Regions from separate parts of the Homo sapiens genome. Here region 1 is linked to region 2. The links come from fine-mapping of genetic effects on gene expression. A gene starts in region 2. The other region holds a variant in brackets. All regions are shown on one strand. Distances are from middle to middle.

Region 1 (2,917 bases), 290 kb after region 2:
AAACAGGCTGCCCATCACTGCCCTAGATCTCAGAGACGAAGTGAGGCCACGGTCAAGTTACGTGCCCCAGATGGAAGGAGACAGTTTAGTCTGAAAGAGTGAAGGCTGAGTTATGAAGTAATTCTTGTTGAAAATAAACCTATACAAGTAATTAAATTTGGAATATCAGTCCTCTCTGACATTGGCCAGTTCTGTGGCCCTATTCAAACAAGATTACGCTCTGAAAAACAGATGCTAGACGAAAAATATGAGAAAGTATAAGAGTCATCTATGTGCTACCCAGGTGGTGTGATTCAGTGGGAAGAGTGACTGTAAATTGGATTAAACCTGGGTTAGAATCCTAGCCTTGCCCCACAGTACCTCTTAGTCATGCCACTTACCTTCTGAACATCATTCTCCTCTCTAGAAGAGTAGAGAAAATAACACTTATTATATATTGTTGAAAGTAGGCAGTTCAGTAAGTGTTACTTTCCTTTCCTCTAGGCAGTAGGCCACTGGAGAAAAGAATTGATAGGGAAACTTTCTAAACGGGGAAAAAATTGGCTAGATTTCCAAGTGGGGAAATTTTACTGTTGGGATAATTTGGTTTTAGAAAGGAATACTGAAGGTAGGAATCCTCAAGAATTGGAATCTCTAGTGAATCACTTTAATTCTACAAATACTTATTGAACACCATAATGTGACAGGTATTGTCCTGAACCCAAGGATACAGCAAGGAACAGAACAATCCCTGCCCTCAGAGAGCTCACAAGCTCTCAGGAAAGATATTCATTAAATGTCTGCATGTGTGATGAGCATTTTGAAAGGGTTCCAGGGAAGCATAGGGGTGCACAAGACCTCATGTATACTGTCAAGGATGGCCTTATCTGAGAAAGATTCGTTGATGCTAATAATGAATGAATAAGTAGGGATACAATGGTCAATTTCACATTCCCCACCACCACTATTCATATGCCACAGATATGTCTGACATTCCTGCTACATGCCAAGCCCTGAAGAGACAGAGATAAAAGAGAAACTATAAAGTCTGTGATCTCCCAAGGCCTCAAACCCCACAGAAGAACAAAAGTAATTGCATAGATGCCAAATAATATCATAAATAAAGGGTTTTGAAAACAAAGGAAGGAATGGTGGATCTGCTCCCGAGGGAGATAATAAGCATGCCAAGGAGGAGATCCAGCATTGTGGTTTGGGTGGCAATTTCCACGCTACTCCCTGAGCTTTTACACTGTGTATATAAGTGAGACCTGCAGTGCCAGCTGGTATTGTTAACAACTCAAGGCATTAATGTAATACAGTGATGCCCTCAGAAAAAAAATAGAGCTGATAAAGAAATTAA[C/T]GTGTTCAAAAATACACACTTCATCTGCTGACTTGCTCACATTTCCTTCACACATGGTGGGGTTTACTCAGAGCCAGAGAGAATGACCGTAGCAGTAAAGTGAAACTCACAAGTGATAGTCAGGGGAAAGGCCAATCCCCACCCTAGCCTCATTTACTGAGCAACTGGAGAGCTTCCATTTTCAGAGCCCTTTCCAGTCTTCAAAGTATCTTCATATTCCAATTTTATTGGTTCTTCCCAACAAATCCTAAAACAAGGAGTGCAGATCTTTTATTCCCATTATACAGATGAGGAAGCTGAAACTCAGGGTAGATAGGTTCTTTCTAGAGTCATGTGGCTGGAGAGTGCTGAAGGGACTATTAGAACCCAAGTCTGATTTTCGCTTTACTGATCTAATACCCCAGGACAGGGCTTCTCAAACTACAATGTGCATATGTGCCACCTGGGAGCCAATATGCAGAATCTGATTCATAAGTCCGGGGTGGGACCTGAGATTCTGCATTTCCAGCTCTGTGACACCAGCTGGAGAAAACGCATTCTTCCTGATGAAAGATAATCATAGTCTGTGTTTCCCAGATGAAATTTCTTCAAATGGTTATGACAATGGAGGATCCTTCTTATTTTTTCAAAATACCAAATAGTGGTCCCTCAACAACTTCAACCTAAGCAATACTTATTTCCCTGACACTTCAGGGGACATAGACGTCTTCTGTTATAGTTCATCTGTCTCTGTTCTCATCCCCATCTCTCTTAGTCTCTTTCTGCATCTACCTCAGTCTCTGACTCTTTTTCTATTACTCTTTCTCATACTTGACCACCAAACTATGTCCTTGAATGTACAGTGTCAAGTTGAGGTGTTCTCCGATACCAACAATCAATTCTCTGATTCTCCAGGCACTAACTCAAGATATCCAGCAATTCAATTCAATTCTCACACTGCTCAGAGATAGTGCAGATCCCACAGCTTAAGAGCTCAGTCAAACAAGGCTTCCCCCAATTTCAGGCACCAGTCAAAAATCCCAGGCCCCCTGTATTTCTGACTGATTGGTTACAAATTGTACGTTTCCACAACATCTTTCTTATGCTTGATAATTTGCTAGAACAGTTCACCCAACTCAGGAAAGTGCTTTACTTACTATTAGCAGTTTATTATAAAGGATATAACTCAAGAACAGCTAAATGGAAGTGACAAATAGGGCTAGGGATTGTGCTATATAAGTTTGTGAATTATGTAATTTAATCATAACCAAAACCAAAAGAAATACGTGCTATTGAATCCAATAAAAAATTCTGTCTGTCTGAGTTCTGAGTGAATTGATAAAAAGACAAAGGGACTAAATGTATCATCTCTATTATTGATAAACTATAGGTTGGAGGATAGAGTGTATATTTTCAGATGAATGGCTTTTCCAATACTACATCCCAGAAGTAAATAAACTCACAGGTATCCTGGAACCACAGCAGACCTCTCAATGGAAAGGCAATCCACTGTAAAATGTATGGCATGACAGAAGTGGACTTACTTCATGTGAGCAACGTGGTGTCAAGAGGAAGAAAGGGAGGGACAATTGAATGTGC
Region 2 (2,917 bases):
CAAGAATATTTCATTCTAGATTTTAGAATCCCAGGTTTTGGCTCACTTTGGTCAAGAAAAATTATAAATAATTGAGTTACAGATAATTAAATGTTAGCCTCCTGGAGTGCATGGCAATTGGTTTTGACCTCTATATTAAAATTCACAAGACCACGGACATAAGTCAAAACAGGTCCCCTTCGTCTCCCTAGTCACCATCTCCAGGGCTAAAAAACAGACTTGAAATGGGTGGCAGTTAGACTACAGGAAACAGGATCTACAAGCACCAGGAGCTCATCTATGGCTATCTGACATCGCCTGGGGACACCTCACTCTCTGGCAGGCTCCTGCTGGCTGGAGATTGTTAACATCGCCAATCAGATGTTAATTGAATGCAAAGGAATAGGAAATAAATTCTGGTTCTGAAGGGGCAGCTGGAAAGGTGTTGGGCTTCTCAGATTCCAACCTACATTACAAAGCAGGCCTAAAGCCAAGCATACTCCTTGCCAGAAGAAACGGAAAGCCCCTCTCCCGTTTTTAGAATCAGGCTGGAAAACACGGCTCCCAGAAGGTGGGGTTAGAAAACAAGAGCTTGCGAGGCGGCGCCCTGTGGTCCCTCGAGGAAATAGTAGAGAGACAAAGAGGGCCTGCTCCTGGGAAGCCCTAAATTCGAAGCCAATCCTTCCTCCTAGACATGACCACAACTTTAAAGGGCAGGGCGCACACCTCCCCTCCCGGATCTCTAGGACAAAGGCAGGTCGAGGGTAAATATTTCTAGTTATTCAGTATATTCAGTGGCTAACTATTTATTTTGTGGGTACCAGACACCGACATAATCGGTTACGTCCTTCCCTTAATTCTCATAATTCTGAGGTTTGTGTTATTAACCCCCTATTATCTTTGGTCTACCCAGGGCAGCCAAAGAGGCGCAGAGAAGAATGACAAGGTGCCCAGCAAGCGGCAGGATCAAAGCCTGGGTCTCTAATTCCCAGGCTGGAGATTCTGGGCTGCCTGCTCCTCCTGCACGGGGCGAAAAGCCCACCTGGGATCCGAGCGGGCGGCCGCGCCACTCTCGCAGGCTCCATACACCCGCCACTACCCGCCTGTACCACCTGCAGCCGGCAGCGCAGCCTCCTCGCGGGTCCCGCAGGGCGCGCTGCAGGTGCGCTGGGCGTCCCGAAGCCCCGCCCTCGCGTCCCTGCCCCGCGCCCAGCTCCTCACGCTCGGTGCCCGCGCCCCGCAGCGGCAGCGCAGAACGCACCGCCTCTGCCAGAGCCCGGGAAGCGCTCGGGCGAAGAGGAGGAGCCAAGGGTACCGAGCGGGTGGAGTCGGGAGCCGGAGAGCGGTGGAGGCGGATTTCCTGGGCCCGGCCCTCTGGCGCTACCATGGCGTTTGGCAAGAGTCACCGGGATCCCTACGCGACCTCCGTGGGCCACCTCATAGGTAAGGAGGCGCGGGGAGAGACGCCCAGGCAGGCAGGGGACCGTGGGATCCTTTCCTGCTTGATCCATTCTCGGCCTGCAGAGGACGGAGTTAGTCCAACTTGAAAAAATTATTCCCCTCCCCCCGCAACTTTCCCAAGGCACCCGCATTCCACCCGGCCCCCTTTCGTCGTTTCCTTCTTGGCCAACTCACTGTAGAACCTCAGTCCTCAAAAATGTACCTTCCTTTCGATGCCGCCTGGGGAGTGGAACCAAACAGGTGAACCGCGGGAGTCAGGCATGGAGTGTTTGGGCCTCCACGAGGAGACACCAGAAACTTCTCGGTAGGGGAAGTTATTCCTAAAGGCACATTCTCCAGGGCACGGTATTGTTATGCCCGTTTTACAGATCAGAAGAGGAGGCTCTGGGAGACTAAGTGATGTGGCCTTACTGTGAGGGGCAGGTCTCCCCAAACCAGTTTTCTCTAGTGCCAAGCTTATACAACCTGGATTACTTTTCTGGGTAAACAAAGAGAATGAAAATGCTTGGCATTGGAGTGAAGAGGAGGGGAACATAGGAGCCATCTGGGGCCACGGAGGTCTCTCGCAGGCCACTAGGGACTACACCAGCATCCACCTAAATGATTTCTCTCTCCTCCGGATGTACCTTGCATGATGTATGTAGAAGCCAGTGATTGGACTCCTACCAGCACCAGCTCACTGCTCCTTCTTTTCCCTGATTCCTCCCTTGGGAATTGGGTGTGGCACGAGTGCATATTAATGCCAGGCAAAGTGTGATGATGTCAGGAACTTAGTGGGGTGATGAAATCGTGAGAACCTAGTAGTTGTAGTAAAGAGGCCCAGATTTGGAAAATTTAGATCACAGCTCTACTAACTGCTGTGACACCGAACACACCACTTAAACAGAACCTTAGTTTACACATCCTTATAAGATGGTCAGAGTAGCTACCATTGAGGAGATGCTTTCCCTTAATGGCTGTGCTTTTTTGGATATTAGAATGAACCCCAAGCAGAAATGGATTCAGACTGTGTCTTCATAGGCAAACGAAACTTCAGCAGTTCTTCTGCTTAATTTTTTAATTCTGTAAACATGGACTAACTGTCAGCTATGTGCCTGGACCTGGATCAGGCACTGGTGAGGCCAAGGTGAGACGTGGTCTCAAACCTGAGGGAACTCACTTTCTTGTAGAGAAGACGGGCACAGTTTTGTGTGGCACCTTTGCAATGCAAGAAAATGCAAAACACACAAAACTTAGGAGAAGGGAGAAATGAATTCTGCGTGGCTTTTGAAGGGTGAATAGGAGTTTTCTTTTCTAGGGAGGTAAGCTTTGTCCATTCGGTGCCAGATTCAAGTTTTTTGTTGTTGTTGTTTTGTTTTTGTTTTTGTTTTTGTTTTGAGACGGGGAGTGACACCCAGGCTGGAGTGCAGTAGCTCTCGGCACACTGCAACCTCCGCCTACCGGGTTCAAGCACTTCTCCTTCCTCAGCCTCCCGAGT

The links. PIP is the estimated chance that this variant, and not a neighbour inherited with it, causes the effect. A credible set is the group of variants that fine-mapping cannot tell apart.
Region 1: its variant is the best candidate, but not a certain one, in a credible set for the expression of TOM1L1 in lung (TOPMed, PIP 0.66).

What each region holds. Positions count from the first base shown.
Region 1 is chr17:55,189,515-55,192,431 of GRCh38, forward strand. It overlaps a transcript of STXBP4 not described here. Among named protein-coding and RNA genes, the nearest start is that of HLF, 74 kb to the right of the region's middle. The variant C/T (reference allele first, on the strand shown) is at 1,340.
Region 2 is chr17:54,899,502-54,902,418 of GRCh38, forward strand. TOM1L1 (target of myb1 like 1 membrane trafficking protein) reads left to right here and starts at 1,351. Exons shown (of 16, transcript NM_005486.3): 1 at 1,351-1,422. The coding sequence starts at 1,365. It overlaps LOC124904033 (a long non-coding RNA gene), which reads right to left and starts at 1,236. Exons shown (of 2, transcript XR_007065854.1): 1 at 1-1,236. RefSeq lists a silencer at 1,026-1,365 and enhancers at 1,446-1,555, 1,576-1,665.